Linked DNA regions of Homo sapiens. The protein of the gene in region 2 purifies or fractionates together with the protein of the main gene of each other region. This does not show direct contact. Each region holds a gene or a part of one and is shown on either strand. Other genes may lie near its edges. The genes, in order: TCEAL2, LRRFIP1, TMOD3 and MCTS1.

What was found.
Region 1: the proteins of LRRFIP1 (region 2) and TCEAL2 purify together in Homo sapiens (affinity purification with mass spectrometry; 2 studies listed by BioGRID and IntAct, with this or other methods). This does not show direct contact.
Region 3: the proteins of LRRFIP1 (region 2) and TMOD3 purify together in Homo sapiens (affinity purification with mass spectrometry; 2 studies listed by BioGRID and IntAct, with this or other methods). This does not show direct contact.
Region 4: the proteins of LRRFIP1 (region 2) and MCTS1 purify together in Homo sapiens (affinity purification with mass spectrometry; 2 studies listed by BioGRID and IntAct, with this or other methods). This does not show direct contact.

Annotation. Positions count from the first base shown.
Region 1 is NC_000023.11:102,121,333-102,128,244, reverse strand, and holds TCEAL2 (transcription elongation factor A protein-like 2), read right to left. Parts: upstream 2,567-6,912; 5' UTR 2,439-2,566; intron 1,873-2,438; 5' UTR 1,800-1,872; intron 1,442-1,799; 5' UTR 1,415-1,441; coding exon 731-1,414; 3' UTR 533-730; downstream 1-532. UniProt on the Homo sapiens protein: May be involved in transcriptional regulation.
Region 2 is NC_000002.12:237,777,561-237,782,153, forward strand, and holds the end of LRRFIP1 (leucine-rich repeat flightless-interacting protein 1), read left to right. Parts: intron 1-1,861; coding exon 1,862-1,972; 3' UTR 1,973-4,083; downstream 4,084-4,593.
Region 3 is NC_000015.10:51,825,770-51,832,687, forward strand, and holds the start of TMOD3 (tropomodulin-3), read left to right. Parts: upstream 1-3,883; 5' UTR 3,884-4,067; intron 4,068-6,918. UniProt on the Homo sapiens protein: Blocks the elongation and depolymerization of the actin filaments at the pointed end. The Tmod/TM complex contributes to the formation of the short actin protofilament, which in turn defines the geometry of the membrane skeleton.
Region 4 is NC_000023.11:120,607,066-120,614,101, reverse strand, and holds part of MCTS1 (malignant T-cell-amplified sequence 1), read right to left. Parts: intron 5,878-7,036; coding exon 5,744-5,877; intron 3,092-5,743; coding exon 3,024-3,091; intron 1,920-3,023; coding exon 1,838-1,919; 3' UTR 1-1,837. UniProt on the Homo sapiens protein: Translation regulator forming a complex with DENR to promote translation reinitiation.

The DNA.
Region 1 (6,912 bases), on a different chromosome or scaffold from region 2:
TATTCCTGGACACAGGTAAGATTTACCCTAGTCCTCTTCCAAGTGTCTGAGGGGGTATTTTTTTCTGCTAGAGCAGGGGAGAAGGTAGATGCCAACCCAACAAATATATTCTCTACCTTATCCAACCCACTCAGCAGTTCTGAAAAGCAAGGTATTATCTCTATTTGACAAATGAAAAGACTGTCCGTTAGAGCAATGGATCTGTAATAACCCCAGATTGACTTCTCCAGATGAGTCCCACAGGTAGGTAATGTGAATTTTACCTATCATTTTAAGTTCTGACAACAAGAACGTTAAGTGTCTCTACTGAACTTCATAAGTTCACTGGACAGTTATTCTCTTTGCTTTTTACATACTGTTCTGATTTTTTAAAAATATTTTATTATTTTTGTGAGAAAAGTAATTTGTGTTCTCTGGGAAAAGAAAGATTAGTAGAAAGAAAACAAAGAAATGAAATCACCTGCTAGCTCACAACTCAGAAAACCACTGTTAACCTTTCATGTATTTAACAAAAACAGACAGATTCTGTAGATGATATTATAAGCTGCTTTATTTTTCCACGAATCATGACGTCTCTGCAATGCACATGTGTGAAAATCTGCTACTGAAACATAGAGCAAGCAAACACTGGCAGGTGGGTCAAAACGCTACTGGTAGCAGGAGGAACGACTAAAGCAAAGTATTACCATAAGGTTAAAACATATGGCCTGACAAATGCCTGCCAGGGACACTACACATAAGGAATGTCTTCAGTGTCCCTTCGTGGGGCCCTGCAGCCACCCCTGAATTCCCTTGGACCCCTAGGATAGAAGGGGTCCTGTAAATTTCTTTGCATCCACAAAAACGCCCCCAATTTCTGTTTGCTTTTTCTCCTTTTATCCTCCACCCTAGCCATGTTGTCAAATTCTCTTATCATGTCCTCATTGCTGAAATTCATATCATGTATGGCTTCCTTATATTGCTTGAGGTACTGAGCCAGCCCCTTGTTGGTTTTTCTTTTGGCTTTCCTGGGTATATCATCCTCAGCTGGGCGCTTTCCTGCAGCCCTTGTTTCACTTTCTGGCTCTCCCTCACTCTCTGGCTCTCTTTCACTGTCTGGCTCTCCTTCACCCTCTGCCCTTCCCCCTCTCTCTGGCTTTCCCTCTGTCTTTGATCCTCCCTGCATCTCTGACTTTCCCTTCCTCTCTGACTTTCCTTCTCCTTTTGCCTTTCCCGCACTCTCTGGCTTTTCTTTATCCTTTAACGGTTCCTCAACTCTCTTGCCCGTGTTTTCTGTGTTTCCCTCGTTTTCTAACTTCTTGTCTTCCAGAATACAAGCTACTTCTGGCTTTCCCTCGTGCGGTGGCTGTTCTTCATTGTCTATCTTTCCTTGATTCGAAGGCATTCCTTCATTTTCATTGAAGAGTTTTTCCATGTCGAGATTTCCCCTCCTTTTCCTTTCCTGGGGGATGGGTGTGGAGGGAAGAGGAGACAAAGAGGAGACATGGGAGACTGAGGGCATGGGGTGGAATGCAGGTCTGGATACTACTTGCATCTCACCCCTGGTGAGGGTTCCCCTAAGCTGACTGGGCCTCCAAGAGGGCCTTCTGCCCACCACGTAGCCCACCACTCCTCCCACACACGTGAGCCAGCTGTTCCCTGGCAGGCCCTGCCACCTTCTCTGCACTGGTTCAGCCTGGTAAGGTGTGTGTTCATGTAGGTAAGGGGATGGGCAGGGGCCCCAATTCGGCCCTGACTGTGCCCTCCACACTCTCAACCCTTGTGGGCCCCTGTCCATGCAGCCCCCTGCTTTCACGGACCTGCGGGGATTCTGGACAGGTTGCTCTTCCTTTTCAGGCCTCTCAGAGCGCTGGGAACAACAGACGCGCAGACCTGCGGACAGACAGGAGACAGGGGCAGGGGCTGCGCGCTTAGCGGGCTCACAGGGACTCGGTTCCCTTTCCTGAGTCCAGGCCCTGCTTACCCACCGTTTTCCTCCCCTACCTCCCCCGCACCCCAGCCGCCATTTCTTTCCAGGCCTCGGGCACCAAACCAGGATGCTTTCCAAACTGCGTTTGTCTCTGTGTCCCCCTTCCCCGGAGGCAACCTGCCCCAGCGCCACCTCATTTTTGCGGAGATCAAGTGTTTCCATGGGTGTAGATTGTGAGAAGGGGTTATTTCCAGAATATGTCTACGTTTCACTGTCGCACTGCGGGGTCGCTACCCCCACCCCCCATTTCCAGCACTAAAATGGATGGAGGACTCAGTGCAAGGGGGCGTCGAGAAGGCGAGCCAGGCTTGCTTCGGGGGTTCTCCCTCCACTGCCCCCGCCCCCGCGACTCCGCATCCCCCTCCTCCCCAATCTACCGGATCCCTTCTCCGCCCCCTCCCCAATCCTACTGCCAGCCCCCTCCACCCCTGTCCCAGGGTCCGCCGGCAGCGCACGCCTTCACACTGACCTGCGGGGACCCAGGACAGGCCTGTGCCTCCTGCGGCTCGCTGAAGCCCGCTCGCTGCTCCCCCGCCGCCTGGGCAGCTCAGACAGCTGATTCTGCGCGGGCGCCCGGACCCGACCGCTGGGCGGGCTGGCGGGCGGGCGCGGGGGCTGGTGCCCACGTAGGCGCCGGGCGGGTCACGTGAGCACCGCGTCACCGGAGCTCTGCCCCCGCTCTTGCCTGACACACCTCACCTTGGAGCTGGGCCCCCCTCTCTTTCCTGACATACCTCACCTTCCATCCCTGAGGGACCGGAGGCTGGGGACGGTCGGAGTCTCGGTGCGTTTGTGTAGCAAAGTGGGGTCGCGGAGAAGAGGAGGAGAGGTGGCTTTCTGACCCTAGGTGCTTTACCTGACGCAGCTCACAGCATCCTCGCAAGGCATATCTCTCTGATGCCCATTATCGCCAGGTGTGACAGCTGATCATAGAGGTACCGGACTTTGCCAAGAGCGCTCAGCCCCAGAACTCCACAGCCCACTTTCAATACCGGCTCTGCCTGACTCCAGAGCCCGGGGGGTAGTGGTGCCTGCCAGGAAGCTGAGCTGCCACCTTGAGTGGCGGTGTTCCTGGGGTTCTGTCCTGGGCCTCCTCTCTCCTCAGTCCTCAAGTTGTCTCTCCCTGTGTGATCTCATTCATTTCCAGTAAACACCGATGACTCCCAGATCTACAGCTCCAGGCTGTTCCCTTCTCCGTGTCTCATATCAGCTTTGCCAACTGTCTATTGGACATCACCGCCTGAGTGTCCCTGAGGGACCCCAAAGCCCGTGTACCCCAAATTGATTTACCAACTTCCTTCTTGCCATCTCCCTTGGTCTCTCTCCACACTTGAAACTTACCTTCCAACATTTGATCAGTTTTCATAGAGAGAGAATGTCAGACAGGTAGAAAAGAAAGCATTAAAACATTTTAAATATGAATTTCAGATGCACAAATTCATCATAGTCCTTGGTTTACAACACACCCTTATCATCGATCCCTGCTTGTCCCTCTTCCTTCCCTTTTCTTTCCCGTCCTATTATTTCCTCCCCTTCCCATCCTTTGTCTTTTTTTTCTTTCCTTTTCTTTCACATTCGTGAAGCCACCACCCACAAAAACTAAGAATCACCAATATTTTAGCTTCTACAGTATAGTGACATGTATATGTATATATACACATGTTTATTTATACACACATATATGTATAGATGTATATGTGTGTACATATGTATGTGTATGTCTTGTGTATATCTGGGCAACAACTATTTTTATTTTGATTTGCAAAATACCTTATCATGATTACAGGATTATGAATTATGTGTGTTACACAAGCAATTCTGATTATATTTCTGCTACACATCTTTCTTCATTTAGTAAAACCTTGATCTTCCTACAGTATTTTGCTCTATCAATATGTGTATTCGTCATTATCACCACATCACCAATAATTCTGTCCTCAATGTTGAATTTTTTTCCTGAATTATCGAGGCTAGGTGTTTCAATTTCATCAGTATAAACTTCCATAAAATTATTATAATTATTCAAGAATTTGATGAAAATAATATCAAATCAGTTGAAAAGAACTGATTTTCTGTTTTAATCATCTAATTATAGTGATTTTAAGCTGTCTTCAGTAACTATTTGCTAAGTTATTTTGCTAATGGAGCCAAAGTATTAACAACTATTTCTCCTCTTTTAAAACATATACACAAAAATGTGGGATTCAAAATTAGTATCATTAAATTTGAAGAAATGTCATTTTATCTAAATTAAAAGATCTGTTCACAAAATGAGAAGTCAACACAACTTTTGCATTTGCATGTAATAAATTGACACATTGTTCCTCAAGTAATTACTACCTTTGGAAGAAGATATAATGACAGTTCTCTTGATGCATAGTATATGTTGATTAAACATATTTTAAGTTAAATGTTTGTCATCCACTTTCTTAGAAAAGTAACATTACTGAACATACCATTCACTAGAGACCTTTTGTTTCTTATTGCAGAATAAAAGTATCATTCCCATCAGTAAAATAAATATAGACATATATTAACACTATAAAATCACTAAGTGATACCAACACCTGGCAGAGACACACACACAAAAAGGAAACTTCAGGCCAATATCCTTAATTAACATGGATGCAAAAATCCTCAACAAAATAGTGGCAAACTGAATACAGTAGCATGTCAAAAAATGTATCCACCATGATCAAGTAGGATCCATCTCCAGGATGCAAGTTTAGCTCAATATACACAAATCAATAAATGTGATTCATCACATAAACAGAACTAAAGACAAAAGCCACATGATCATCTCAGTAGATGCAGAAAAGGCTATGGATAAAATTCAACATCCCTTCATGTTAAAAACTCTCCATAAACTAGGTGTTGAAGGAATGTACCTCAAAATAACAAGAGCCATGTATAACAAATCCACAGCCAACATTATACTGAATGGGCAGAAGCTGGAAGCATTCCCCTTGAGAACCAGAACAAGACAAGGATGTCTCACACACTACCAGACAAAAACAATGCAAAAATGGAAGTAAAAAGTGGAGATCTGTGGTAGGCTTAATAATTGCCTTCAAAGATATCCAGGTCTTAATGCCTGGAACCTGTGAATTTTACCTTATATGGCAAAAGGGGACTTTGCAAATGTCATTAAGGATCTTGAGATAGGAAGATTACCAAGGATTATCCAGGAAGACCCTAAATGTAATAACAAGTATTCTTATAAAAGGGAAACAGAGAGAGATTTTACTACGGAAGAAGAAGGCAATGTGAAAACTGAAACAAGATTCTACACTACAGACTTAGAAGATGAAGGAAAAGGCCATGAGCCAAGAAAGGCAAGGAATGCAAACTCCAGACGATGGAAAATGTAAGAAAATAGAGTCTCTTTTGGACCTCCAGAGGAAGCAAAGCTCTGCCAATATCTTTACTTCAGCCTAGTAAAACTAATTTTGGACTTTGGACTTCCACAACTGTAAGAGAATTAATGTGTATCATCTTAAGCTAACAAAATTGTTATTTGTCACAGCAGCCCTAAGAACTAAAGGTTTCCTAAACCCATTCTGGCTTATTTTAACATAAATATCAGTAATAAGAGTACATTTTTAAAAATGACAAATTTTGGAAAACGTTAAGCTAGATGGGATCCTAGGTCAACAGGTAAAAATAATTAGGACTGTTCAGGGAAAGCCAGGAGATACTTTTATCCTAGAGGTAATTTATGTAAAGTCACTGGCACAGTGACTGGAACATAGCAAGAGTACAATTGGGTGAGTTTTCTTAGCTCCCTGGACAAGAATGCAATGCATTTTTAAAAACTTTTTTACATAATTGTAGATTTATTTGTAATTATAAGGAATAATAGAGATCTCTCTTATTCTTTTACCTGTTTTCCTCCAATGGCAACATCTTTTGTAGCTACAGTAGAGTATCACTACAGAAAATTAATATTGATATACTCTAACAACCTTTTTCATATTTCACCGTTTAACACACATCTATTTGTGTGAGAGTGTGCATGTTAGTTATATGCAATTTTATCACATATTTTTTCCCAGATGGAATCTCAATAACCTCCACATAGATATGAAAGGTGTTATTAAAAAAAATGGTTAGCACAGGAGAAATGACCTATCCAAGCCCTATGATGTAACTGGCTCTCAATGTTCTTTTGCAATGCTCTTCTGAAAAACCTCTTCTTGCAATGCTCTTCTGAAAAGCCTCTTCTTTCGGGGTCAATTGCACATATTTTTCTTGAGAATTTAACATAAAATATACAAAATGAATGATGAAGTATATGAAATAAAGTGAAATGAAGTGACGGTTTTATTTTACAAATTCAGTGGAACTGGTCCAGTGATTGTTCTTTTTTTAATTACTTTTATTTTAGGTTCAGAGGTATATGTACAAGTGTGTTTTAAGGGTAATTTGCATGCTGCATGTAATTTGCATGTTGTGGTGTGCAGATTATTTCATCACCCAGGTAATAAGCATAGTAGCTGATAGGTAATTTTTTAGTCGTCACCATCCACCTTCAAGTAGGCCCTGGTGTCTGTTGTTCCCTTATTTGCATCTATATATACTCAATGTTTAGCATGCACGTATGTGAGAACATGTGATATTTTGTTTTCTGTTCCTGTGTGAGTTCACTTAGGATAATGACCTCCAGCTTCATCCATGTTGCTGCAAAGGACACGATCTCATTCTTTTTTATGGCTATATAGTATTCCATGGTGTATATATACTACATTTTCTTTATCCAGTCTACTATTGATAGGCATTTAGGTTGGTTCCATATATTTGCTATTGTGAATAATGCTGCAATGAATGTACACCTGCATGTATCTTTATGGTAGAATAATTTATATTCCTTTGGGTATGTACTCAGTAATGGGACTGCTGAATTGAATGGTAATTCTGTTTCAAGTTATTTGAGAACTTGCCAA
Region 2 (4,593 bases):
TTGTTGTTTTAACGGTCGGTCCTTTGTAGGGACCTTTTTTTTTCTTCTCTAGTTTCTTTCAGGTTCTGTTTGTCTTTGATTTTCTACAGTTTTACTGTTAGATGTAGTTTATTGGAATCTTTCTGCTTGAGATATATAGTGTTTCTTGGATCTGTGAAGTCTTTTTAAAAATTGATTTTGGAAAATATTCAACCATTAACTCCTTAAATAATTCCTCTTTTTTAGTCTCTCCACTTTCCCCTCTGGAACTCTAATCAGAGGATGTTAGAGATTCTCATTGTCTCCACATTTTTTAACCATCTCTCTTTCATGTTTTCTATCTCCTTACCTCTCTCTATTGGATAATGCCTAAAGTTTTTGCAAAGATTTTCCAGTTCACCATTTTTTTTAAAAAGTGTCTTCATTGTTGATAGTTTCTTGCTGCATGTTCATGTATGTCCTCTTTTTAAATTGTATTCTTATTCTTTAAATATTTCATACACAGCTGTTTGGTTTTCTGTATCTGACAACTGAAACATGCTCAGTCTTTGGGGGTCTAATTCTGTCATTTATTGCTTCTGTTGACTCTCACTCAAATGGTTTGTCACCTTAGTGTTTTGTGAGCTTATGCTTGATTTTAATTTGTAGGAATAACTCCAGGCTTAACTTGTGGAAACTTCCTGCAAAAAGGGCTTGCTTCTGCCTCTGCTAGTGAGGTGGGGTCGGGACTTCTGTCCCAGGACCCAAACAAGCTTCCTTGAGTGTTTTGGGTCGAAAGCAGAGCCATAGACCCTGTTCTTGTCACCCCTCCAAAACCACGTTCTCCCAGCTTAGGGCACCCCACTCTGCCCTGCTGCCTGTGGGTCCAGATGATGCCCTGCTAATGTGGCTTCTGCAGCTCGTCTTCTGCCTGACTCTCAGGCTCCATGGCCCTGGCTCCCAGGTGTGGCCGTCTTGGCCTCAGGCATTCCTGCCTTGGACTCTGGCTGCCAGGGCTGTGGGGACCACCTTCGCCATGCAGTCCAGGCTCAGCTCTTGTTGTTTGTGTTTGTTTACCTCATGCCTCACTTACCTTTTGTGAAACCATCAGGATCCCCACTGGGCGTGTGGCTCACGCCTGTAATCCCAGCACTTTGGGAGGCCGAGGTGGGTAGATCACCTGAGGTCAGGAGTTCAAGACCAGCCTGACCAACATGGTGAAACCCCATCTCTAATAAAATACAAAAAATTAGCCAGGTGTGGTGGTGTGCACCTGTAGTCTCAGCTACTCAGGAGGCTGAGACAAGAGAATTGTTTGAACCCAGAAGGCGGAGGTTGCAGTGAGCCAAGATCACACCGTTATACTCTGGCCTGGGTGACAGAGCGAGACTTTGTCTCAAAAAAAAAAACAAACAAAAAAAGAGGCCGAGCGTGGTGGCTCATGCCTGTAATCCCAGCACTTTGGGAGGCCAAGGCGGACAGATCACGAGGTCAGGAGATCGAGACCATCCTGGCCAACATGGCAAAACCCCGTCTCTACTAAAATACAAAAAATTAACTGAGGGTGGTGGCGCACACCTGTAGTCCCGGGAGGCTGAGGCAGGGGAATCGCTTGAACCCGTGAGGCGGAGCTTGCAGTGAGCCGAGATCACGCCACTGCACTCCAGCCTGGGCGACTGAGCGAGATTCCATCTCAAGAAAAAAAAAAGAAAACCATCAGGATCCCCAAGGGTGTTCCCTCTCTGGAGTCCAGTTGTTTCAGAGGAGGAAGGGCATCATGAGGGACCAGGGGCCAAGTTATCATTTTATTTTTCAGTAGGATTGGAATTTCGGTAACACAGAACCCTGTTATGTTTGGAGGAAACAAGTTCCTTAAAGCTCACTGCCTTTCCTCCGTTCCCAGCTCCGCTCTGCATTGGATAAAACAGAAGAGCTCGAGGTGAGCAACGGCCACTTAGTGAAGCGTCTGGAAAAAATGAAAGCAAATCGGAGTGCACTCTTGTCCCAGCAGTAAATTCCAGCTCTGATCAGGCAACTGGTTGGTGACTGGAGAGCATTGTTTCATAGGCTTTTCTCTGTCCTATCTGGGAGCGCTGCTTCTTCCCCTGCCTTCCGAGAGACGAAGACCGTGGCGAGCTTGGCGCTTAGGGGCTCCCGTGCCATGGCTCACCCCAGGGAGCCCCAGCAGCCACCAGGTGCCTCTGTCTGCAGACCCCTGGCCCGGGCTGGCGCCGACGCTCAGAACCTGCAGGTACTTCATAAGCACACAGGGGCCTCGAGGGAGCTCTGTGTCTGACCGCACAGCAGCCTCTGAATGCCGCTGGAAGTGATGATCAAAGTAAAGATTCAGTTGGGACTTGAGTTTTTTTTTTTTTTCATGTGTCTTGCTGAAGATTAAGGGGAAATGTTACAGTGTTGGGACTTCCTTTCATGGCAGAATCTACAATTTGAGCGACTTCAGTAGTATCTCTTAGTCTACGCTTTTCATACACAAAACACTGTGGAACCACAAGCCATTACCAAGCAAAACTCTTTCACTGGAAACAAGGGGGCAGTCTAGAAGTAAAAGTGACCTTAAGAAGACTCTTTACAGGCAACAAATGAAGCTTTTCTAAGGGATTTTTGCATCAGTTCAGTCATAAGAATACTTTTTTCCAGGGTAATTAGGCAATAGCTTCACTGAAAATGACAGCTTTTCATTGCATTATTTAATCCTTATATTTGGAATTGAAGTCGTTAACTTCTTTTAAAGAATGTACTATTAGAAAAATTAAAAATGAAATGTTGAGAGACTTCAGCAATGTGGTTCTAATTTTTTTCCACTGAGAAAGAAGATCTTTAATTTCATATTAATGGTTCTGTATATTTTGGGTCATCTTTTTATTTTTTAAGAATATCAAGTCAATTCATTTTTCTTTCCCTATTTAAAAAAAAAGGTGTTTTCACAGAATGAGTGCACTTAAAAAGTGAAGTGAAGGAGGAGGTAACAGTAGAGACGATGGCAATATCATCAAGGACAAAAGTAAAAACGTTTAGCTACCTGCTGATTTTTAGTGACTGTTCATATATGTTGTATTTCAAGTATGGCTGGTGAAGCCAGTCAGCTTTTCGGGACGTTAGCAAGTGGAAACTGAGTCAGTATCATCCAAAACCATATCTAGTCTTAACACATGGAGAATGCTGGAGTGAGGGTTGTGAGTTCAGGGTATATAATCAAGAAAACACTCCCAGCATAATGCTAGGGGTCACCAGTGTCCATCCCCCAGAACTGTATGGATCTAGGATATACACAGCTGCGTTGCATTAAGAAAGAGATGAAATCTCTATTAAAATACACAAGATTTTTGTATCTCCTTGTGCAGAGGATATTTGCCACTGCCCATTGGGAAGCAGACAAGTTATAGGGGGCTGGGGGCCAACACTGGCAAGTAGGAAACCACGGGTCGGACAGGTGAGCAAAATGTGCTGGCAGGTGGGCACCACTGGGAGACCCACACTGCACACCCGGGCACCGTATGAACAGGAAAGAGGAAGGAAGCTGGACGAAGCCCCTCAGGGACCCTGTGCTGACCATGCTGGGCCCACCGGCAAAAGGGAGATATTCAGTTCCTTGTCTCATCCTTAAGGTTTCTTCCACAACATCTGAATACAAGCATGTTTAACTGGGAAAATGTCTATGTCATGCGTGAATAACACCAGCAGCAAACACTCACACATCACGCAGACACGGCCGGCAGCATGCTGACGCTTTTAGGTATTTTTCACTCATGCAATTTTCACATATTTTCACTCATTTCATTTGCACGGAAATTCTATGAGGTAGATGCTGTTATCAAATCCACATTACAGATGAGGGACCCAGGGTCCAGGAAGGTGAACTGGCAGAAGTCTCCCAGCTGGTAGAACAGGGCTGCAAGGCATCGATTCCCAGGTGTCTCACAGCCCTGAGAAGATGGCGTTTTCCCTATCAGTGGCTCTGAGGAAGTCAAGCCTTCAGTCTCTACCTCTCCCACCAATTCTTTTGGAAACAGCAAACCAATGTTACACACACTTCCTAATCCAGAGGAAGCTAGAACACGATTTTTAAATTTATTTAGTAAAATAAAACTTTTTTTGCAGATGTAACGAATGGAAATTGGTTGCTGGCTTCTTTCATCCCTGCAACCTAGCGTTTCTCAGCCTCAGCACGACGGTCGTCTGGAGCTGGGTCGTTCTTGGTGGCTGGGGTGGCTGTCCCCTGCACCGTGGGATGTTGAGCAGCAACACTGAACTCTACCAACTCATTGCCAGTAGACCCCACTCCCGGTCATGACACACAAAAACATCACCAGACATTGCCAAATGTCCACTGCGGGGGTGAGGGGCGTGTAAAAGCGCCTCCCATTGAGAACCACTGCTGTAACCTGAATTAGAAGATTTGGAAAAGAAATGGTTGAAAACCCAGACCAGGATCCCTGTTGTATGTTTCCTATGAATGATTTTCATTTTTAGAAATGAAATAACATCTAGGACATAGAGCAAAACACTCAAAACACATCATAAATGGATAACATAAATAGATAAAAATCCAATGCAGTTCAGAATTACAATCAAATGTTATTTTCTCTTGTGTTTTAGAATTCCTCATTTTCATAG
Region 3 (6,918 bases), on a different chromosome or scaffold from region 2:
GTCCCTTCCACTTATATTTTATTGACCAAAGCAAGATTCATGTTTCTAAACTTTGTGATTACAATATGACATTTAACCGAAGAGAGGAGGAAAATCCCATCATGGGATCATAGCCAAGCCTGGAATGCCTGCGGGGCAGCACTGGAAGTCACATAGTAGTGGGCAAGCCTGTCTATTCCTCTAAAGGAGAGCAAATATGTGGGAACAATATTTCAATCTACCACAGGTATTTAGTGGACTTACCTTTTCACTTATTTATGTAAATCTAATTTCCATGTTTTTCCTGTTTGTTTTCCTCCAAGAATTATGTTTCCAACTCTAAGGGAATAGTGGCAACCCTAAATTATAGCCTTTTTAAAAGAGAGCTCTGTCTCTATTTCAGGACTTTCACAGGATCTTATTCTCCTGTGTAGTCAACCCTCTTGCAGCTGGTGTTTACATCCAAATCAGGTCACTGGCTGGCATTTACAGGTGAACCTTCTGGGTCTGTGTCCCAAGAGGAGAGTAGGAGAGAGAGGGAAGAACCCAACATTCATTTATTTACAAATATTTATTGAATACTTTCTGTGTGCAGGCAGTATTGTAGATGCTAGGGATGGAGGAGTAAACAAAGCAAAGCTTGTTGAGCTTCCACTAAGGAAACAAGCAATATGAAGCTATGTGGTAAAAGTGCTATGACGACAAGTAAAGAAAGGAGAGAATGGCAGGGTAAGGTGGTAAGAGGAAGACTTTCAGAGGTAACATGTGAGCAGAACCTTCATTAAAATGAGGGCATGAGCTAGAAGCATCTGGGAGGAAAATCATTCTCCTGCACAGCATAAAGACTCTGAGATGGGGAGAAACTTGGCAGGATTAAGAAACCTCAGGGAGGCCAGTATGACTAGAGCAGTATCAGAGAGAATATGTGGTAGGAAACAAAACAATCATATACAGATTTGTAGAGGTGTTAATTATGGATTTTATTCTAAATGTGATGGAAGCCATGAACGGTTTGGAGCAAGATGGTGATATGATCTGATTTGTTTTTAAAAGATCATTCTGGGCTGGGAGTGGTAGCTCACGCGTGTAATCCCAGCACTTTGGGAGACCAAAGTGGGCAGATCACCTGAGGTCAGGAGTTCAAGACCAGCCTAGTCAACATGGCGAAACCCCGTCTCTACTAAAAAAATACAAAAATTAGCTGGGTGTGGTGGGGTGGGGGGCCTGTAATCTCAGCTACTAGGGAGGCTGAGGCAGGCAGAATTGCTTGAACCCCGGAGGCAGAGGTTGCAGTGAGCAGAGATCACGCCACTGCACTCCAGCCTGGGCGACAGACAGAGACTCCGTCTCAAAAAAAAAAAAGTCATTCTGGCTGCTAATATAGCGAATGTGTTATAGCAAAGGAGTGGAAGAAGTGAGGAAGGTTCTACCTCTTCAGTGCTATCCAATACTAAGGTATTACTCTTAACATCTCTGGCCCCATATGTGGTATTTAATGTACACGGATTTAAGAGATTCATGTTTATAAGCTTTGTGATAAAAATATGATAATGTATGCCTGAAGAAAGGAAAAAATCCACCATCAAACTGCATTATTTTAGAAAAAGGAACTAAAATAAGATGTATACATTCGTTAGGAAAAATTTGAAATGAATAGCGAAAATATATTTAATATATGCCTAACAGCCCATATTGGAAGGTGAGAGAGGAAAAGTGTAATAGATTAAGTCAGTCAGACACTGAATTAAAAAGTCTCTCTGACCAAAGCAAAAGAAGCCATATTGCAGAGGAAAGTCCTTCTTAAAATAAACCATATCAGCTGGGTATGGTGTTGCATGTCTATAATTTCAGTACTTTGGGAGGCCACGGTGGGAGGGTCCCTTGAGCCCAGGAGTTCAAGACCAGCCTGGGCAACATAGGGAGACCCTGTCTCTACAAAAAAAAAAAAATTAAAAAAATTAGTTGGGTGTGGTGGCATATGCTTGTAGTCCCAGCTGCTCAGGCTACTCAGGAGGCTGAGGTTGGAGGATTGCTTGAGCCCAGGAGGTCACGGCTGCAGCGAGCCATGATAGCACCACTTCACTACAGCCTGGGTGACAGAATGAGATTGTCTCAAAAAAAAAAAAATTGATGAGATTTAGGAGACACATCAGTCTGATCAGCAGTGGAAATCACATTAGAATTTGACTCAAGAGAACTGTGTCTCATCTCTGGATCTCCAATTACTGGCTCTGGGACCTTATACAAATTACTTAACTTTTCTGAGTCTTCATTTTCTTATCTATAGAAATGGAGGATACCAGTTTATTCTTTATAGAGTTTTGAGGACTAGATTAGTTTTGAGGATTAGATGAGATATTACAAATGAAGTGCTGGCCCAGTGGTTGGTATGTATTATAAGTATAAACATTCTTATGAACCTGAATTCTGTAGGAAATTGCTCTCAGAAAGCTGTTATCTCCAAGAGATTGACCCAAAGATGGTATAGAAAATAAAATGCAATGGCCACAAGATTGAGTGTTGACTGTCCTCTAAGTATTTGCAATTGAGAAGGGTTTTTTCCTGGCCAAGCACGGTGGCTCACGCCTGTAATCCCAGCACTTTGGGAGGCCAAGGTGGGCAGATCATGAGGTCAAGAGTTCAAGACCAGAATGGCCAACATGGTGAAAACCCATCTCTACTAGGACTACAAAAATTAGCTGGGTGTGGTGGCACGTGCCTGTAATCCCAGCTACTTGGGAGGCTGAGACAAGAGAATCACTTAAACCTGGGAGGCAGAGGTTGCAGTGAGCCGAGATCACACCACTGCACTTTAGCCTGGGCGGCAGAACAAGACTCTGTCTTGGAAAAAAAAAAAGAAGGGTTTTTTTCCCTTAAAAACCTAAACCATCAGTGATCTCCATTGCTGAAATTAGTGGGTGCCAGTTGCATGAAATTCCAGGATGTTTATCTAACCTAGGGTCCTCCCTCCTCTGAGGGGAAGAAGTAGATGCCAGGAGAGGTTTAAACCATGAAGTGGCTCGCACACTGGGTGTAGCTGGAATGTACCTCAAGCAGGCACGTCAGTCCACTTCTTTGGCTGCATTTTTGAAAGGTGTGTCAAAGTTTAGCATTATTCCTGGGGATGGTCTACTCCTGAAGAGCAGGCCAGGAAAATTCCCAGTAAGTGACTAAATGAATAAATGGAAAAATGTCGCAGTTCCCTCTCCTCAGAGCCTCGCACAAAAGGTAGCCATTACATAGGCCACTGTCAAACAGTCCTCTGAGAGATTCCCACACTCTTCCTCTTCCCTCTAGACTACCCATCTGCCCCAATCCCCCCCTTGAGCAGCCTATTCTGTTTTTTCTCCCACTACAGCAGCCAGCCCCACCGCCTGGTGTAGAGCTTGAAGATGGAAAGGGAAGATAGGATGGGCAGAAACTGCCCTGCAATAGCTACATCATCCCCGAAACGCATACCTAAGAAAACCACTAAGGTCACCACACCCTGGAGGTGACATTCGCATGATTTATGCCTCTCTTGGGCTTTAGATTTTATTCCTTTACTTTTCTATAACTCTGTCATGACCAGTTTAAAGGCCCCAATGTCATGTCCTCGCATTAACAACCAAGGCTACAATGCAAGCCCTGCCATGTGCGCTTCTTTACAAAAGGTCAAAGTAAAAAGGAAATCTATACCAAAGAGCCTCTAGATACTATTTCCAGCTTCGGGGAAGTCCATAGTAGGTACTTCCACGGGTAGAGAACATTATCTTAGACTGGGATAAGGGTTGGTATTCGCAGTCCCCTTCCTACGTTCTGCCCATTGTAAAGACCAGGGTCAGCGTTGAGCCTCGCCCTTCTTGCTAGAACTACAACTCCCAGGATGCCCCGCGGCACGGGAGTGCGCACGCGCGTCGGAGGCGAAGGAGGAACCCACCGCACCTACAGGGCGGTCGAGTGAGGGAGCTGCTGGCGGGTGGGTCTGGCAACTCTTTGGGAGGCCGACGCGGGCGGACCGGCGGGTGCTGGGAACCGAGCCTCGGCTTGCGGCCGGCAGTTTCCGTGGGTCTGTGAAGAGGTCGGCGGCCCCTGCGGGCGCCAGTCAGGTAAGCCCAGCCCGGTGCTTTCCAGGAAGTCCGTCTGCGGGCGCGGGTAGGGAGTCGCACCGGCCATGGTGGCTGAGGAGGGAGAGGTTGCTGCCCGCCGGCCGCCCGACTCCAGGCTCCTTCCCGACGGGTCCGTCTCGGGGAGCAGGGGTGCGCGGGGGCTGCTTCTGCGCGAACGGCCCGGGCGGGGGACGTGGGGCGCGCTGGGCGTCGCCCGCCGGTCTAGGCGCGCGAACCTGGCGTTCCCAGTGAATCACCCGCGGCCCGGGCGCCCGGGTTCGGGACCGGCCCCCTCCCCTCCCGCTGAGCCGCGGCCGAGCTGGCTCCCTGCACCCTACCCAGCGTCGCCGGGACGCGATCACACCGAGATGGCACCGAGCCTCCTTCAAAGGCTTCGGCTTGTTGAAAGTGGGGCGGCGGAGTGGGGGAGCCAAAACTTAGGGCACACCCTTTTTGTGATTGAAATGTGGCTGCCCTTGCATTCACCGGTTTGATCTGTCTGCTCTTAGAATTAAGTTCCTAGCTCCCAGGCAGCACAGCTGGATCCGGCTGGGAAGTTTGTGTGTTAGTTTGTTTTGAGGACGTGACTGTGTCGTTATATTTTTGCTTGCGGGGGATGGTGTGTTTCCTCCGCAAGCCTGCATTCTGATTACAAACAGAAATGGGAAACAGCCACAGTTTCTTTTTTTCTTTTTAATGTTTAGTTAAGAATCGCATTTCCAACTTGCCCTTGGCCTCTGTTAAAACCAAAAGTCATCTGGCAATGAACACTGCAGTAAAACTTACCCCAGGAGGCCATACTTCAACAGGAAATAAGCCTGTGGAGATTTAAGTTAGTTATGTGCAGCCTCCCTTGGTTTGTAACATTTTCATGCAGCTCATGTCTCCTCTCCTTTTCTGAGAAACCTTCAGATTAATTTTTTTGGCAGATTAAATTGATTAATTGGCCCGTCAAAAATATATTAGGCTTGGAAAAATAGCTTTGCCAAGTCTCATTTACTCTTGCTAGTTTCTTCTTCCTAGGCACCTTTTCACCTTTAAGAGTCAGCAATCATAATAGTTACAGTCCCCTTTCTTACACATTCCTACGAAAGGAACAAAACGAATTAAAATGTCCCAATATATTTTAATTCTTTGAGCTTTCTTTGCTTTTGCAACTCTCAGAAATTGTAGTTTGCTGATCTTTAAAATTAGGTTGTTGGACCAGATGACCCCCAAGATTATTCTGCCCCTAAATATCTCTCGTTTTTAAAAGTTCATTTATTTTGCTCATTCAGGAAACACTGGCGATATGCATTCCAAGTCCTATGATAGACATGAGAAAGAGCAAACATGAGTTCTTGAGAATGCTGTAGACCTACTGCTCAATTTTATTTAATCATATTTTTTATGATTAATTCCTAAATTTTGTGGTATATCCAATATGCCAACCTACATTGTAATTAATAACTTCATCTGAAATTAAATAGGTACAGGTCAAATCCCATTCAAAGATTTTTCGTGTCTTAATTACTGGCCCATTGAAACAAAACAGGTTTGGTACAACAGAAAGGCCCTGAATGGTGGAGGGCAGTCTTTTCAAACACTTTAGCATGCATAATTCATTCAGGATATTCTAGGTTTGAAGTAGAGTCCAAAGTCTGTATGTCTGATGGGTGATGCTGTCAGAGACCATACTTTGAATGTCAAGTGTGGGGAGGTAATTTTAGAGGTATTTTCAGGTGTTTTTAATAGCAATTTAAATACTGGTACTGATAACTGATATTAGATACATAATTGATGGCTTTTTCAACTCTCAGTTTTTTAAAATACTGTAGTCCTATGAACTCTAACAAGAACAATTGTCATCATAAGTTTTTCTCCTTCTTTCCTTTTCCTTTCTCTTTGCTAGTTTTTCTTTTTTCTCTTTGCTTTTTTTTTCTCTCCTCCTCTTCCTTCCTTAATTGTTTTCATTCACATTAATTTGGCAATTCATGAATTCAAGTATGTGTCTTGCCCCATTCTGTATTCTGTACAAAGCAATGTTTCAGGCTCCTGGTGAATATGTATAAGACATGAGGCCAGGGCCGGGCCTGGTGGCTCACACCTGTAATCCCAGCACTTTGGGAGGCCAAGGTAGGAGGATTGCTTGAACCCAGGTGTTTGAAATCAGCCTGGGCAACATAGCAAGACCCTGTCTCTACAAAATAAAATAGATTAGCCAGGTGTAGTGGTGATGCCTGTAGTCCTAGCTACTCAGGAGGCTGAGGCAGGAGGATTGCTTGAGCCCAGGAGTTTGAGGTTACAGTGAGAGACAATGATTGTGCCACTGCACTCCAGCCTGCGTGACAGAGTAAGACCCTGTCTCTCTAAAAAAAGAAAAAAAATTATATATATATATATATATATATATATATGAATGACATGGTTCCTGTCTAGGACCTTATTCTCTTTGGGATTAGGCAGATATACTTATGTATAGTCCACAGCACTTGTAAGAGCCACCTGTAGGGAATAAAAACGTGGTAGATATTCAGGAGAGATATTTTCCAGTTGCAGGAGTGGGGAACAACTAAAGTCAATATTTTTTTCCATTCACTGGTCATCTCTTTCCCCAGGCTATACTGTCTATACTGTTTGAATGTATGTGACATATCTACATAGAGTATAGTGGAATTCTGTAAATTTATTTTATTTGGAACCTGAGATGAGCCAGATACATGAACATAATTAGAACCGGATGTGGTGGCACGCTTCTGTGGTACCAGCCACTTGGGAGACTGAGGCAGGAGTACCACTTGAGCCCAAAAGTTCCAGGACAGCCTGGGCAACATAGCAAGACCCTGTCTCAAAAACTAAAACAAAAGAGAAA
Region 4 (7,036 bases), on a different chromosome or scaffold from region 2:
AGCCAAATGATCTCTCTCTTTTTGCTATCCACCCTCACCTTTCTCACCAACTTCTAACTGTAACACAGGTCACCACAATCTTGTATATGTCTGTATCCATCTGAAAAATAAAATCACATGTCATATATTGGTAAACAACCAAATGAAGATGGCTAAGACACTAGAATAACAGCAAGGTTATTAGGAAGAAAAATGGTCTTTATCAATAAATAAATCCACAACTGCTCTTTTAACTCCCCAAACAGATTACTGTTCTTACTAAAGCAGGTCCATGTCCCTCATATTCCACTTATAGAAGATATACATTATTTAAGGAGTCTAGTGGGGACCCAAATCCAGATGTTCTGGGCATCTGTTTGGTATGACTTTACTCAAAAGAAGGCACTAAAAAAACTGAACCTGAATCTGATCAATCTTATTTGTTTACAGGATATACAGGAGGCATAAAAACAAGTTAATGACTTCACAGTGATACAATCAACAAAATCCAGAATATGTGTGGAAACTTTAAAGACAAAACAACTAGATTTCTTAAATAATTTAAGGGGGAAAAGAAAAGGTAACTTATAAATTAAACAGACTTCAATAAATAACAACCAAATGCAATGTATGAACCTTGTGTGGTACCTATTTCAAGCAAACCAACAGTTAAAGAGAATTAACAGTCTAGACAGTTGATCATATTAAGAAACAGTTCAACTTTTTAGGTGTGATAATGGTATTGTGGGGTTTTTCTAATTTTTAAAGATACACACTAAAGTAGTTATGACGCCAGGCATGGTGACTCATGCCTATAATCCCAGCACTTTGGGAGGCTGATCACTTGAGGCCAGGAGTTCAAGACCAGCCTGGCCAACTATAAAATATATAAAAATTAGCTGGGCACGGTGGCTCATGCCTGTAATCCCAGCACTTTGGGAGGCAGAGGGGGACGGATCACTTGAGGCCAAGAGTTCAAGACCAGTCTGGCCAACATAGCGAAACCCCATCTCTACCAAAAATACAAAATTAGCCGGGCATGGTGGCACGTGCCTGTAATCCCAGCTACTCAGGAGGCTGAGGCACAAGAATCGCTTGAACCCGGGAGGTGGAGGTTACAGTGAGCCAAGATCGTACCACTGCACTCCAGCCTGGGCAACAGAGCAAGACCCTGTTTCAAAAAAAAAAAAAAAAGAATAAAGTAGTTATGGATGAAATGATAGGATGTCTGGGATTTGCTTCAAAATAATTGGGGGGTGGGGAGAAATAATTGAGGTATAGATGAAATAAGACTGACCATAAACTGAAACTGGGTGATGGATATGGAGAGGTCCATTATACTATTCTCCAGACTTCTTAATATGTTTAGAATTTTCCATTGAAGTTTTTTTTAAAAAAACAATCAACAAAACACACACACACACACACACACACATACACACACACACACACACACACACACGAGAATGAGCACTGCTGGGTCCCCTGGAGTAATAGAATAAAATTCCTAGTCTAGTTTCTAGCCCCATTTAACTAGACAGTTTCTCTAGAGGTCTACCATAAAATGGCAATCCATTGACCAAGTCCTGCTCTTCACTCTTATATCATTAGCCTAAGAAAGGACATTAGTTGTATGAGTTTGCTTACTTACCAGATACCTTTTAATGTCCAAGTTTGCTACCCAATTTTAACTTGAGTTTAAGAAAACTTAAAATAATTTCTGAAGCTAACAGAATTTTAGCATCTGGTGAATTTATTCAGCATAACCACAGGCATTATCTTCATGCTGTCACACACAGACACAAACACAGATACAGCACAATATCCATATTTAGCCCAAGTGCATTCCTTCTGAGGCTCATTTATATGTCTTCATATGCCACAGCCCATCATTTAAATAATGGATATTTTCAATGCCAATTCCTTTGTTGACTTTCTCACTGTAGAAGGAAAAAAAACACATAAACATACTTTTATGCATTTTTATAGTCTTACTCGTGATAAATATAATTCAAAGTATATTGTTATTTTTTAATTATTAAGCCACAAGTAAAGAACTTATTGACATCACAATTACATTGTTGTTTATATTAAACTACATTACTCTGTGGCAGCTCATATCTAAAAGTGATTTTAGTGATCTAACTAGTGGGTCTATAGAACCAGAGTAACAATGTCACAAGACTAGGGGAATATCAAAGTGCTACATTAACCCTGAAACAAAATTAATACCACTAATTTGGTCATCAAATGGGTTCTAAAATTTTTAAATATACTGCCTATGTTTTGATAATATATCTTTACTAGTTCTCTAAATATTCTACATTTCTTGTATTACCAGGTCAGGATATAAGATACTGTGTGGTGGTGAGATATATCACTGTTTTTAAAACTAGCAGTAATGACCAGGTGCAGTGGCTCACACCTGTAATCCCAACACTTTGGGAGGCCGAGGTGGGTGGATCACTTGAGGTCAGGAGTTCGAGACTGGCCTGGCCAACATGGTGAAACCCCATCTCTACTAAAAATACAAAAATTAGCTGGACATTATGGCGCACACCTGTAATCCCAACTACTTGGAAGGCTGAGGCACAAGAATCGCTTGAACCTGGGAGGCAGAGGTTGCAGTGAGGCGGGATCGCGCCACTGCACTCCAGCCTGGGCAACAGAGTGAGACTCCATCTCAAAAAAACTTAAAAAAATAAAAATAAAAATAAATAAAATGAAGCTAGCAGTAAAACATCTTCCCTCCTCCCCCAATTTAAATGATACTAAATAAGATTCCTAAAGTACCACGTACACACATATAAAACAGCTGTGTTGGCACATGGGTTCTTTTCAGTGCTTAAGAAAGACTACAATCCTGAAGACAAAATAGGTTTCATTGGCTTCCTAAGTGTTAGGAAATATCAGAAATGAAGCTTCTGTGCTTGGATATTTGTGTAATGTGGTATGCATGATAGCAAATTTCACCTGTAATTCTGATGCTTCCTGGGTTGGTTACCCATATATCAAAAGTTAAGGGGGCCTAAAGTAAGACTTACATGTCTTCTGCAGACATCTTCATGACTCCAACACATAGAGCATGCTGTTTTCCTTCTGCCATGATAGCCTGAAAGAACACAGCTAAGAAAACTATTTATCAAAATGCCTTGGGGCCTCCCCATCAAGGGAAGGGTGTCAAATAATGATCATGTTACTAGTTAAGCCACTTGGAACCCCTCTTGTGTCTTCTCCTAGACCATTAACTCCTTGAGAGCAGAGACCTAGCAGAGTCTGTGGGTACACTGTAAATACTCAGTAAATGCTAAATGAATAAATCTAATAACCCCTTTTCTTTCAAGTCAAATGTTAATACTATAACCCCATGCTAACAAAACCAGAATAAGTCACACAAAAAAGGAGTAAAATTTCTTGCACATAAATACTAAAAACTGTGAAATCAATAAATATTAATTGTTCTGATTAATTATTCTGATCACTGACTAGTGGGGATTTTTGTTTGTTCTTGAGACAGAGTCTCACTCTGTTGCCCAGGCTGGAGTGCAATGGCGCAGTCTTGGCTCATTGCAACCTCTGCCTCCCGGGTTCAAGCAATTCTCCTGCCTCAGCCTCCCGAGTAGCTGGTGCTACAGGCGTGTGCCACCACACCCAGCTAATTTTTGTATTTTTAGTAGAGATGGGATTTCACCATGTTGGCCAGGCTGGTCTTGAACTCCTGACCTCATGATCCGCCTGCCTCAGCCTCCCAAAGTGGTGGCATTATAGGCGTGAGCCACCATAGCCGGCCGTTTGTTTTTTTGAGATGGAGTCTTGCTTTGTCACCCGGCTGGAGTGCAGTGGCATGATCTCAGCTCACTGCAACTTCTGCCTCCTGAGTTCAAGCAATTCTCCTGCCTCAACCTCCCTAGTAGATGGGATTACAGGCGCATGCCACCCCACCCAGCTAATTTTTGTATTTTTAGTACAGACAGGGTTTCGTCATGTTGGCCAGGCTTGTCTCGAACTCCTGACCTCAGGTGATCTGCCCGCCTCAGCCTCCTAAAGTGCTGGGATTACAGGCATGAGCCACCACACCCGGCCTGAATGGTGGTTTTATGTAAAGGCTGTTTTAAAATAATAGGTAAATTCCCAGTCTATCTTTAAGAGCCTGATATAACAGTTTCAACCTTTCTAGAAAAACCAGAGTGGTCTTGGTTAACATATGAAGTTTCTGGAATGTTAAACACTGCAGTACATATTTTAAAAAGTCAAGATTCAGGGTACACAAGACCTCTCTGTACCATTTTCTTTAACAACTTTCTCTAAATCTGTAACTGTTTCAAAATAAAAATTATTTTTAAAAGTAAAGACTAGGTACTAAGGAAATTTTCCATTTAAGGTTAACTCCAGAACTATAAATTTACCAACACTTAATAAATATTAAAAACAAACAACAACAACAAAAAACCCGTCCTCACTTTTCTCCCTTGATTTTCAATTCACTCAGTGTTCCAAATATGTGAGCACCTATTAGGCAAAAAGCATGTCAACATAAGCTGTTCCTAGAATATAAACATACTACTTATACTACCTCTTCGCTATAACTGCCCCAACAGAGAATATCATTTTTTTTTCTTATTCTTCTTAAACACACCCCTGGCCAGGTGTGGTGGCTCACACCTGTAATCCCAGCACTTTGGGAGGCCAAAGCGGGTGGATCACCTGAGGTCAGGAGTTTGAGACTAGCCTGACCAACATGGTGAAACCCTGTCTCTACTAAAAATACAAAAATGAGCCGGGCGTGGTAGTGGGTGCCTGTAACCTCAGCTACTCGAGGGGCTGAGGCAGGAGAATTGCTTGAACCCAGGAGGCAGATGTTGCAGTGAGACAAGATCGTGCCACTGCACTCCAGCTTGGACGACAGAGCGAGACTCCATCTCAAAAACTAAAATAAGATAAACACACTCTAAAAGTAGTTTCCCTATTCCCACCAAGTACCATTCCTTTTCTATACCCGAGGCAAATGGCTACTTTAGCTATGATAAAGGAGAAGATGTTCTCCTGTCCAGAATAGTCACAAAAATCTATTTAATCCAGAAAATAGCTGAAACAGCATGGTAGAAATGGAAATAATGCAGAATTATTCAGCTATGTCATGAGTTGAATCGATCTTTAAGGACCATCTGGGACTCTGACATTTCTCTTTGAGAAAACGTGCTCTGAGGCCCCCAAACTCAACTTTTCAAATAATTAATTTTCAAAATAAAAGTTGGAGGTTGCCAATATTTCCCACTATTCACTCCTAACACAAAATTGTTGCTTGGTAAGAGATACCTATACCTGGTGCCTAAATTCTTTTCCCTTTTGAGAGCTTTCACTCCAACGTATGTCAGTAAGTCAAAATGAACATTACAGTGGCAAGTTGATATCCAAAAAGCTGATCCAATTATATCATCTATATCCTTTCCCCTAGTAATCAAGAATTCCCTATTGTGTCCTAAGTCTGATAACAGTAGGCCCTGACTGGGCTGAAATGCAGCTGAGACTCTTCTGTAACTTGTTCTCATTTAACTTCTAAGAAACGACCTAAGATGAGATAATTTAGTAGCAACAAATAAAATTACTTTGTACAACTTCAAATGTAACCAGAAAGGCATGAGATAAGAGTAACAGTAACCTTCAAAAAAGTACATCTAATGTTCTCTTGGATGGTACACCTTTCGCAGTAATGATAAGAGCACAATGAATACATTTTTCAGCAGTTTTAGCCTGGGAAGGATACAACAATGGTATCTACTGCAGCAGGGTAAAGCTTAGCTCCAGGAGAAGTTAAGCCTGGACACATGATATTTGCTCCACTGAGTACAAATTTGATGGCTCCTTTATCAACCTGCTGGTGTGGCAGGATAAAAGGATCTGTAAGAAAAGATATACAATATATTAATAATAAGACTAATGACTCAACAGAAAAAGGCAAAGGATCTGAACAGTATTTCCCCAAATTAATCTGACAGATACAAAAGAAAACTCTGAAACACTATCATTTGTTTACCAAATTGGTAATCTTTTTTGTTTGTTTTTTTGAGACAGGGTCTTGCTCTGCCACCCAGGCTGGAGTACAGTGGAGCAATCAATACCTCACAATAACCTTGAACTCTTGGACTCATGCAATCTTCCCGCCTCAGCATCCCAAGTATTCTCCAAAAACCGTAATTTCAAAACTATGGTTTTTGGAGACTACTTAATATGCCCTGGGAAATTTTTGTGATATAATGTTAAGTGAAAAACGCAGAGTAAAAAAACGATTAAAAAGATCAGTGGTTACCTGGGGTTGGGGAAGTGGGGGGAGGAAGGATGAATAGGTGGAGCACAAAGGATGTTAGGCCAGTAAAACCATTCTGTATGATACTTTAACAGTAGATACTTGACATGTATTTGGGAAAAACCATAAAACTGTAGAATACAAAGAGTAAACCCTAATGTAAACTAAGGACTTGCGTTAATAATAATGTATCAATGCTGGTTCAATTGTTACAAATGTATCATTCCAAAACAAGATGTTATTCATAGGGGAATCTGAACTGGGGAGAGGGAACTCTATTCTTTCTGCTTACTTTTTCTGGAAACCTAAAACTGCTCTAAAAAATAAAAGCCTGTTAATTTAAAAAAAAACTACAAGGGGATGAGGAGAAGTTGGTTAAGGGGTATAAAAATACAGGTCGATAAGTTCTAGTATTCGAGAGTACAATAAGGAAATTATATTTAACAATGATTTACTCTATATTTCAAAATAGCTAGAAGAATTGTAATCTTCTCAACACAAAGATAAACGTTTGAGGTGACAGATACCCTAATTACCCTGATTTGATCATTACACGCTGTATAAAGGTATCAAATATCACATGTACCCCTAAAATATGTACAACTATTATAAATATATATAGGTGGTGGGGGATACAGGCACCACAACAGCAGACAATGTACAGCTATGACGTATCAATTTTTAAAAACTATGTAACAGAGAGCCCAATTTTAAAAAAAAATGCATTTACACACATCACAGGAAATACCTGGA